Linked DNA regions of Homo sapiens: all the other regions are linked to region 4. Evidence: fine-mapped expression QTL. A gene starts in region 4. Each other region holds a variant in brackets. All regions are shown on one strand. Distances are from middle to middle.

What was found. PIP is the estimated chance that this variant, and not a neighbour inherited with it, causes the effect.
Region 1: its variant is fine-mapped to the expression of PATL2 in whole blood (TOPMed, PIP above 0.99).
Region 2: its variant is fine-mapped to the expression of PATL2 in whole blood (TOPMed, PIP 0.94).
Region 3: its variant is fine-mapped to the expression of PATL2 in whole blood (INTERVAL, PIP above 0.99).

Annotation. Positions count from the first base shown.
Region 1 is chr15:44,665,731-44,668,479 of GRCh38, reverse strand. It overlaps PATL2 (PAT1 homolog 2), which reads left to right. Exons shown (of 18, transcript NM_001387263.1): 15 at 1-138; 16 at 1,277-1,374; 17 at 1,939-2,088; 18 at 2,509-2,748. The coding sequence ends at 2,527. Among named protein-coding and RNA genes, the nearest start is that of SPG11, 3.4 kb to the right of the region's middle. RefSeq lists an enhancer at 1,392-1,491. The variant G/A (reference allele first, on the strand shown) is at 1,546.
Region 2 is chr15:44,678,504-44,681,252 of GRCh38, reverse strand. All of the region lies in intron 3 of PATL2 (PAT1 homolog 2), which reads left to right. Among named protein-coding and RNA genes, the nearest start is that of SPG11, 16 kb to the right of the region's middle. The variant A/G (reference allele first, on the strand shown) is at 1,497.
Region 3 is chr15:44,602,867-44,605,366 of GRCh38, reverse strand. The region is part of intron 20 of SPG11 (SPG11 vesicle trafficking associated, spatacsin); the gene reads left to right. Among named protein-coding and RNA genes, the nearest start is that of SPG11, 60 kb to the left of the region's middle. The variant G/A (reference allele first, on the strand shown) is at 982.
Region 4 is chr15:44,709,626-44,712,362 of GRCh38, reverse strand. It overlaps PATL2 (PAT1 homolog 2), which reads left to right and starts at 1,040. Exons shown (of 18, transcript NM_001387263.1): 1 at 1,040-1,343; 2 at 1,434-1,492; 3 at 2,149-2,267. B2M (beta-2-microglobulin) reads right to left here and starts at 846. Exons shown (of 4, transcript NM_004048.4): 1 at 750-846. The coding sequence starts at 816. RefSeq lists an enhancer at 363-1,025.

The sequences.
Region 1 (2,749 bases), 44 kb after region 4:
CTACAAATGTTATTCAAACCTCTGGGCAAATGTATTAGTCACTTGACCCTCCACGAACTCCTCCAAGGACTTCAGGGATTAACGCTGTTGCCACCTGGCTCCTCAGAGCGGCCAGTCACCGTGGTGCTTCAGAATCAGGTAACATGTCTAGGAGGCTTTTTTCCATAGATGGCTTTCAGGTTGGTATCACTGATAAGGGGTAAGTTGGGGGACAGTCTCATCTCTACACAAATCTTATCCTCTGCAGTGCTTCTCTATTTCTAGTAAGCACATGATCACCTGGAAGCTTATTAAACCCAGCTCCTTGGTCCCACTCAGTCATTCAGTAGGTCTGGGGTGGGGCCCATGCACCTGCTCTGCTTTTCTAATAAGCTCCCTGATTGCTGCTGATGTGAGTCTCTAAAGCAGGTCTCCAAACTCTTGTATACCCCTTTCAGTAAAAAAATATTCTAAACCACACTACCCATGTGTTTATAAATCAAATACATGTAACACTAGTAATAATAGGTACATAATAAATATTTTCTTTTTTTATTTTTTAGATAGTCTCGCTCTGTCACCCAGGCTGGAGTACAGTGGCACGATCTTGGCTCACTGCAAGCTCTGCCTCCTGGGTTCACGCCATTCTCCTGCCTCAGCCTCCCAAGTAGCTGGGATTACAAGTGTTCGCCAACACACCCAGCTAATTTTTGTATTTTTAGTAGAGACATGGTTTCACCATGTTGGCCAGGCTGGTCTTGAACTCCTAACTTTAAGTGATTCGCCTGCCTCGGCCTCCCAAAGTGCTGGAATTACAGGCATGAGCCACTGCGCCCAGCCAATAGGTATATAATAAAAGACAGAAAATTTTAAAGAATGAGACTCTAGATGTGAAAATTTTGATGCTCTCTTCTAATATCCCAGTGGGTTATCTCATGTATGCCATACTGAAGGTCTTTGCTTAAAGAAGTGCCTCTTAAAGTGGGGTCCACAGACTACCTGCCTCAGATTCCTGGATGCATTCCCGATCTCCTACTCCTAGGAGTTAAGCCTAGAAGTATGCATTTAATCAGCTCTCCAAGAGTGTCTTTTGGAAAAGTTCAGAGCAGTGATTCCTATGGAAAGGGTTAGAGAGTTCTTTGGCTCACCAGTGTAAAACCTGACAGCACTTGTGGATATTTTGAGCTCTATCTCTAAATGTGAACCTGTCCTTTAGTTGGGAAGATAAGAGTCAGGAAAGCACCAAATGCCGAGTGTGAACTCATTTTGCTCTGGAATATATATATGTCCCTTGCAGTTTGGAATATCTTTGCTCTATGCCCTGCTGAGCCATGGGGAGCAACTGGTATCGCTGCATTCTTCCCTAGAGGAACCCAACAGTGACCATACAGCTTGGTAAGATCATAAAGGCCTTGTAAATACTATCTAGTACCCTCGGGATGTGCAGACTGAGCCAGGTGAAGTATTTCCTGAGGCATTTTCAAGTACTGAGGAAGAGGTTGGATAGAGAAAGTAGTAGCAGTGTTGTAGCTGTTCTGCTTTTTTTCTATAGTGCCCTAGAGTTTC[G/A]GTTTCTTCTAGGAGGCAGTATAACATAGTACCTAAGGGGACAAGCTTTAGATTTTAAAAAGACCTACGTTTGAATTCTGGCTGTATCACTTACTAGCAATATAACTTTAGGGCAAGTTCTTTCACTTCTCACTTCTCTTAGTTTGTTTCTTTATCTACAAACTAGGGATGATGGTATTAACCCCTCATAGTTCTTAAGATTAAATAGGAAGGGAAATGTGTAAAGCACTAAGCATTGCTTGGCACGTACCAAACATGCAAATGTTACCTCTGAATTGCTACCTGGGGGTGGGGGACAATGGTAGTAGTAACGGAAAGATAATAAGAAACCTTGGCCCTGAGTCTGTTTCTTAAGCAAATCTATTTGCTTATATTTATATTTATGCTCTCTAGGACAGACATGGTGGTTCTGATTGCCTGGGAGATAGCCCAAATGCCTACAGCCTCTCTGGCAGAACCCCTAGCTTTCCCCAGCAACCTACTTCCCCTGTTCTGTCACCACGTGGACAAACAATTGGTTCAGCAGCTGGAGGCCAGGATGGAGTAAGTAATGGCAGAAACAAGGTCAAAGCCCCTTGTTCAAGCCCAATCTATGTTCTGTTACTTGCTTCACTACTTCCTTCTTCTAAATTATGAGCATGAAGGATCATGTGTTTTTAGAAGTGGTTCTACACACTGACATTTACTGAGTAACCATTCTTGACTAAGTCTTCAGCCAACCTTTTATTCCAGGTGCTTTGGTCATTTATAGTGCTAACCTATTTGAGGGCAAGAATTAATTTAAGAACCTGAATTATTCATTCAAGAAATACTTGAGGGACAACTATTCTAGGATATAAGCATGAATAACATGGTCATCTCTGTCCTCAGAATTACTGCTAGAAAGAGTCAGATACTAATTAAATCATATAAATACTTGCAAAGTAGAATTGTGCTTGCAGTTAATATCTGTTCTCTTTATAGGTTTGCCTGGATTTACTGATCTGTTTGTTCTGGAATACGTGTATGTGGGAAGTTGAATCATCAGACACTAGCTACATAGACTATGTTTACAGGGATCCAGAGAGTCTGAAGACATTTCTTATGCCTTTATATATTGGAGAACCCTTCCCCATTTTCATATCCTTTCTTCAAAAATCTAAATGATGTGCCTAAAAATAAGACATGGCATAATAAGGTATAATTAAAGAGATAATAGAATGAT
Region 2 (2,749 bases), 31 kb after region 4:
GAGCCCAGGAGTTTGAGACCAGTCTGGGCAAAAAAGCGAGACGCCATCTCTATAAAAATTTTAAAAATTAGCTGGGTGTGGTGGTGTATGCCGTAGTCCCAGCTACTTGGAAGGTTGAGGCAGGAGTCCAGAAGTTCAAGTTTGCAGTGAGCTATAATCGTGCCACTGCACTCCAGTCTGGGTGAAAGAGCGAGACCCCATCTCTAAAACTAAAAAGAAAGAAAGAAAAATCACTGGTAATGGTATTGAGAAAAGTCTCTGCGGAGTAACTAGTAATGTTAGCTCCAGATATACTTTTTCAAGCCCGAGAATTATATAGGTGGCATCTAGGTGGAAGTAAGGGTAGGGGACTTGTCTTGACCCTGCATTTGCAGAGAACTAATACGTCAAATAATTGTCAATTGTCCAGAAAAAGTGTTGAAGGGGCTTATGGAGATTATGTCTGTTTGTCCCTGTTGCCACCACTATAATGGAGTCAAAAGCCAGAAAGCAACAGTTGAAGGAATGATGTGAGGAAATGGAGAAGTTTGGTTTGTTAGGTAGGAGAGACCTGAAGGGCAGTTAAAATAAGAAACAAAAACAAGACAGGGATTTGTCTCCAAGAAGTGGACACATCCTGATATTTCTATCCTATACACTAAGAAAAAGAAAGGGGAAAACAGAGAGGCTCAAGACACAGAGAAAAGTGGCTGAAGGGCCAAGCATCCAGGAAGAGAGTCTGGACTTGAAGAGGAGGAGAGCCCCCCACCTGGAAGTGCAAGGTGGGGGGCCTGTGGCTGTGTATAATTTCCTCCAAGTATGAATTGAAGTGGATCAGCCCCAATGGCCTCTATTTTCCCCATAACATAAGAGGTGAGGTTGACTGCTGAGAGTAGAGATGGGAGTTGTATGGAAGACTGGAGGAGGACAATGCCTATTTTTTAGAATCACTGATGAGGGATGTATGGGAAAGGCAGCTAAACAAGGACAAATTAAAGAACAGCTCAGCAGGCTGGTGATGGAGCAGTGTCAGTCATGGTCCCGACAAGAAGCAGATGGCACATTCAAGTGGTGTAACTGAGGAGCATGTCAGGAAGAGAATATTCACCAAGGTGTGAACAGGGTGAAGGGAAACTCATAAAGGCCAGTGAAGCACCCTGGAACTAGCAAGAGTGGGGAGCCTTTCCCACCCCCAGACCTCAGGGGCAAGAGGAGGGAGCAGATCCCAGATCCAGAGGGAATTGGGGTAATTTAGGAGAGGGCTGCCACACTGGAACTCATACAGCACAGATGCTGACATTATCTGAAGCCAGGCAGCCCTCTCTGTCTCCAGGTTCTGGTGACTGCTCCATCCTCTTGTCCCAGTCCCAGGGGATTCTGCTATTACTTGTGGTTTCACTATACTCTTTCTATACTTTTATAAATATAACTTTATTAGATTATCCAGTTTGAATACACCATCTATTTCCTGAAGGAAACCTGACATACATGGTTCTTTAAAAAGACTAATAAAATAG[A/G]CAAACTCTAGAAAGAAGAACAAAGGAGGAGATGAATAATATTAGGAATAAAAAGGGAGACAAAGGGCCGGACGCAGTGGCTCACGCCTGTAATCCTAGCACTCTGGAGGCCGAGGCAGGTGGATCACTTGAAGCCAGGAGTTTGAGACCAGCCTGGCCAACATGGCAAAAGCCTATCTCTACTAAAAAAAAAAAAAAAAAAAAGAAAAAGAAAAAGAAAAAAAAAATTGGCCAGGCACGGTGGCTCACGCCTGTAATCCCAGCACTTTGGGAGGCCGAGGTAAGTGGATTAGCTGAGGTCAGGAGTTCAAGACCAGACTGGCCAACATGGTGAAACCCCTTCTATACTAAAAATACAAAAATTAGCCGGGCATGGCACACCCCTGTAATCCCAGCTATTCAGGAGGCTGAGGCAGGACAATTGCTTGATCCCAGGAGGCAGAGGTTGCAGTGAGCCGAGATGGTGCCACTGCACTCCAGCCTGGCTGACAGAGCAAGACTCTGTCTCAAAAAAAAAAAAAAATTAATTGGCCAGGCATGGTGGTGTGCACCTGTATTCTCAGCTACTCTGGAGGCTGAGGCAGGAGAATTGCTTGAACACAGGAGGTGGAGGTTGCAGTGAGTTGAGATCGTGCCAATGCACTCCAGCCTGAGTGACAGGCAAGACTCTGTCTCAAAATAAACAAGTAAATGAAAGGGGGCAGGAGAGACAAAGTACAGTTATAGCATGGATTTTTAAATACACTTATACTATGAACAACTTTATGCCAACAAATTTGAAAATTTATAAGTAATGGACAAATTCCTAGAAGATATATAACTTAAAACTCAAGAAGAAATTGAAAGCCAGACTAGATCTACTGCTATTAAAGAACCTGAAACAATGGATAAAAAATCTCCCCATAAAAGAGTGTTTTATGTAGCAAATGTAAATATTTCTAATGTCATTTTTTTTCTTTAAGAAAAAATTTTTAATAGAGATGGGGTCTCACTATGTTGTCCAGGCTTGTCTTGAACTCATGGGCTCAAGCTATCCTCCTGCCTCAGCTTCCCAAAGTGCTGGGATTACAGGTATGAGCCACTCTAATGTCTTTTTAAAATCTGACCCAACAATCCTGTGTACCTGTGTGTACTTCTTATTCTAGAAGAAGCTCTAACAGGCTGTGGGAAGCATCTGCTTTATTCACTGTTTACCCCAAGCCTAACATAGGCTTGGCTTGAACTTAACATAATGAAATGATGGCAGGAAAGTT
Region 3 (2,500 bases), 110 kb after region 4:
AAAAATGAATTTCTTAATGTATGTGTTTTATAAGTTCGAATTTTGATATATAGAATTTACCTCGTGCCCAGAGTCCAATGCATGCCAAGCCTACAGTAGATGTTCAGTAAATATTTGTTGAGTGCTGAAAAAAGTAGTGCTTATTGCATTATCAAATAGAAATACTCTTTCTCAGTGAAGTTACTAGAGAGTAGACAAAATACCCTCTCCTCTTGTGATGGCTCCAACTCCATCACTTAGGTGGCATCTTGACCTGGCATTCTAACTCTTGGAAATTGAGCACTCTGCCAGGTAGAGTAGAGGCACAGAGAAGTTGAAAGCATGTTCCCTGCTGTTTTTAGAAGTTTAAAACATACTTGAGGAAATAAAGCACAAAGTAAATGAAACTGTTATGAAAATGTAATACTTTTTTTTTTTTTTTTTTTTTTTTTTTTTGGAGATGGAGTCTTGTTCCGCCCAGGCTGGAGTGCAGTGGCACGATCTCGATCTCGGCTCGCTGCAAGTTGTGCCTCCCGGGTTCATGCCATTCTCCTGCCTCAGCCTCCCGAGTAACTAGGATTACAGGTACCCACCACCACGCCTGGCTAATTTTTTGTATTTTTAGTAGAGGTGGGGTTTCACCGTGTTAGCCAGGATGGTCTCGATCTCCTGACCTCGTGATCCACCCACCTCGGCCTCCCAAAGTGCTGGGATTACAGGCGTGAGCCACCGCACCCAACCAATACATATTTATAAAATTGGAAACCTGTATTTAATTTGAATGTTGACTTCTTTTTTCTTATGGTTTTACCACTGAACAGGGATGTAAGAACACTGTGTGGTGACTTGGCTTCTGCACCAGGCCAGAGTAAAATTTCCCTCTAGAATGAATTTTCTCTTATACGCAGTCTCCACACTAAGCCCCAACGTGCTAAAAAATTATGGTCTTATTTGAATAAAAAACTCAAATGTGCTCATTTCAGTACTGTGTGCCTTACAAAC[G/A]CTCAGCAAATATCTAATGAATGGCTTTATATGTAATTACAAGTTGTCAAAGTCGCTCTGTTCTCACAAGAATACAAATAGGGCATGTGACAGTTTTTTTAATCTCAAAGAGGGAATGTACTTTCAGGTAAGACCTTTGTAAGATGACAGATACCTCCAGGGTCTTCAAGCCTTTTTTTTTTTTTTAGGAATCAGGTCACAATGTGAAAAGTCCTTGGAATTCCATGAGAAAACACAACTTTATTTCAGAAATAAGCTTTGAACTTTGAAAACAAGAGCAGGTACACTGTTTTCCAGAACTAGTTTCTGGAACCAGATCACAGTGTTGTCTTTTTTAAAAAATAGGTAGTAAGTGGTTAAGAGACAATTGAATAGTACGTGACAGGAGTGACTATTTCTTTCTAACTGGAGTCAGCCCTCCATATCCTTGGGATCCACATCCAAGGATTCAACCAACCTCAGATGGGAAATATTCAAAAGAACAAACAAACAATTTAAAAAAAAGAAAAACAATAGAACAATTAAAAATAATACCAATTTAAAAATACAGTATAACAACTATCTACATGGCATTTACATTTATTGGGTATTATAAGTGATCTAGAGTAATCTAAAGTGTATGGGGAAATGTGCATAGGCTATATATAAATACTATGCTATTTTACAGGGACTTGAGCATCCTTCTGTGGATTTTGGTATCCAAGGGTTTCAGGAACCAATCCCCCATGGATACCAAGAGATGACTAGACTCATATCAAAATATCTTCTGACTTCAAATTTATCTAAAAAAAGACATTTTTGTTTGATATTTTCTTGGGTTTAGAGGAACTTTAAACTGAGCTATTCTGCTGGTCTTATTAATAGAAGGATGGTGCCATCTTTCTAAGATATTCATGCTCTATGAATACAACATCAGAAAGTAAGTGATAACAAATGGAGGTTATAGGAGGGTAATTAGTGTAGAGGGAAAAATGTTCTAAAATTACCTGTTGGAGGCCAGGTGCAGTGGCTCATGCCTGTAATCCTAACACTCAGGAAGCTGAGGTGGAAGGATTGCTTGAGGCGAGGAATTCAAGACCAGCTTGGACAACATAGCAAGACACTGTCTCTACAAAAAATTAGCCGGGTATAGAAGATAAGGGTCAAGAAGGTGAAAGAAAAATGTTAAAATTAGCCAGGCATAGTTGTGTGTGCCTACAGTGCTACAGGAGGCTGAGGCAAGAGGATTGCTTGAGTTAAGGAAGTCAAGGCTGCAGTGAGCTATGGTCATGCCACTGCACTCCAGCCTGGGCAACAGCAAGACCCTGTGTCCAAAAAAAAAAAAAAAAAAAATTGCCTGTTGGAGAAAGGTACAGTGAGTTGGCTTTGGTGAACAGAGGACTCATATAAATATGTTAAAAGGGATTTTATTGCATAATGACCTTTTGTGAATGAATTTAAAAGCTCCTTTTGCAGTTATTTAAAGACTTTACAACTATAGGGTTATTGGCTATTGCCTTTCTGAACTTAAAGGATCATC
Region 4 (2,737 bases):
AAAATTAAATGACGCAAAGCACATAAAGTCCTTGGCACACAGAAAGATGTCAATAACGGGTAGTTCTTATAATTTTTTAAAAGTGACATGTGATGGGAACAAATAAGTTAATTATTCGAAACCGCTTTGTATCACAGCCAAGCATTCTACAAACGTCGCGTGCTGTTTCCTCCCCACGGTGTGGCCCCACATAGACCCAGAGGTGCTAGGACATGCGAACTTAGCGGGCGCCTAGACGAAGTCCACAGCTCTCCAGTCTAAGGGAAGCAGAGCCGCAGCAGACAGGCTTACCCGGGCGACGCCTCCCCCAGACCCCAAGCGCCCCTCCACGCGTTCACAAACCTCAGCGCCGCGCCTTTGGGACGAGCCTACCCGTCCCCCACTCCAGCTGCGCTGGGGGAGCCAGAGGCCCCGCGAAAGAGCGGAAGAGAAACCCTCCCCCAACCTCGGCGCTCTGACGCTTATCGACGCCCTAAACTTTGTCCCGACCCTCCCGTCGCCGTAGGCCAAAGGTCTCCCCTGCTCCCCGCCGAAAGGGGCAAGTAGCGCGCGTCCCGGGTGCGCACCCCCTTCCCCACTCCCAGGCCACCCCGCCGCTTCCCCGAGATCCAGCCCTGGACTAGCCCCACGGCGGGCCACCAAGGAGAACTTGGAGAAGGGAAGTCACGGAGCGAGAGAGCACAGCGAGGGCCACAGAGGGTGCAGAGCGGGAGAGGAAGGACCAGAGCGGGAGGGTAGGAGAGACTCACGCTGGATAGCCTCCAGGCCAGAAAGAGAGAGTAGCGCGAGCACAGCTAAGGCCACGGAGCGAGACATCTCGGCCCGAATGCTGTCAGCTTCAGGAATGCCCGCCAGCGCGACGCCTCCACTTATATTAAACGCGTGCCCAGCCAATCAGGACAAGGCCCGCAGGGACCGTCACCTGTCTCCAAGCCAGCGACGCAGTGCCAGGTTAGAGAGAGGGACTTTCCCGTTTTCAGTTTCCTTTTCTTAGAGTCTCGTGATGTTTAAGAAGGCATGCACTAGACTGGGTGAGTTTGCTGTCTGTACATCGGCGCCCTCCGATCTGGGGTGCGCGCCCCAGCTTGGGACACCGGGCGCTCATTCTAGGACTTCAGGCTGGAGGCACATTAAGGCTGCCCCCTCGCTTTGCAGACTGGCCCCAGAGATGCTAAGTGACTTGCTAATGGTGCCCCAGCCAGTTAACTGCTCGGACCTGCATTTTTCATTCGAGAAAACGGAAACCCAGAAGATTAAGATCTTTGAATGCTACCTAGCAGAAGGAGAACTTCTGTTTATAACTACAGCTTGGGAATTCCCTGCAGGGTTTCTCCATTCTCTGGGTAAGAAAAATAGTCCCAAAAGCATCCTGAGGACAGCTCAGAGAAGGTCCTAGTGAAAGAGTACCTTTCTTGCTTCTTGTATCCCTTCAGGAAAAAGTGTTTGGAAAGTTCTGTGCCAAGAAGTTCCTCCCTATGTCCTTGCTGTTTAGGTAATTTTCTTTGTTCTGTTGATTTGTCGGGGGGCGGGGGGGAGAAAAAAACGACCACTAATAGTAAAAGCAGTAACTGCTAGGGCTTTAGAGCTTCCAGCGCCCTCTAGGTACATCATTCTCTTAGTTTCCACCCTAGAACAGGGGCTGGCACATAGTAGGTACTCAGTAAACCGAATGAACGAATGGATGGATGAATGAATGAATTAGTGAATATATAAATAAACTGTAGGAGGAAAGAATTACCCCCATTCATTTTATGGACAGGGGAAACAAAGGCTAAGAGACTAGAATTCAAACTCTGGCCTGATTCCATTGACATTAATATTTTAGACACTGGAAGACAAAGGGCTCGGCAATTTTAGTGAGAGTTTGGACTGCATCTGCCTTGGACCCAGCCAAGGACGTTAAACATGACAGGCAGACCCATTAAGAAAACCTACCCTCTAAAGTGACCATAAATAAGGTGCCGCCATTTCGTGGTGGTGGAGTCCACAGATCTTTTCTAAGAGGAACAGTGAGAAGAGGAAGTGGACCATGGCGATGGGGAGGGGCAGAGATCTTGGAAGTCACCATGGTTTTCAGTTGAAAGGATTTGCCTAGCTTCCCCAAGGAGCACAACAAATAACTTCTAGGTTTCTTTTACATATTTTTAGGCTTTTGATAATCTTTATTGTGGAGGCCATGCCTAAACTAAGAAAATGCAATACTCTCCATGGACCTAATGAAATGAGATAATGCACAAGAGAGAGCCTCCCACAATGCCTGGTACATAGTAAGTGTTCTGTAGTGTTTAATAAGCGCTATAATTATTAATATTATTTACCTAGTTTTTCTACCAGCCCTCTCAATAACTAAAATATGAGAATAATTGTTATGCCTAAATGTATGAGTTAAGACACTCTTGCTCCCTCCCTTTTCCCCCTTTTAAAAACTCATATAAGGCACTAAAGGCCTGAAATGTTAGTGTTGAGTTGTACTAGAAAAGTGCCTTAGAAGTTTAGCAAGGGACAGGGCTATTTTTGCCTCTAGTTTCTTGTTTACTACATCACAGAGAAACACTAAATTTAAAATCCATTACAGATAGATTCTGATTTACTCACTTGGAAAACCAATTTAAAAACCAATAAAAAACAGTACAGATAGAAAAAAGTCGATTTTACAGTTTTCTTTGGGGGGGAATACCTGTATTTTTCTTGGACTTACCATTTATGACATGTTTTGAATAGTGAGGGGGAAAATTAT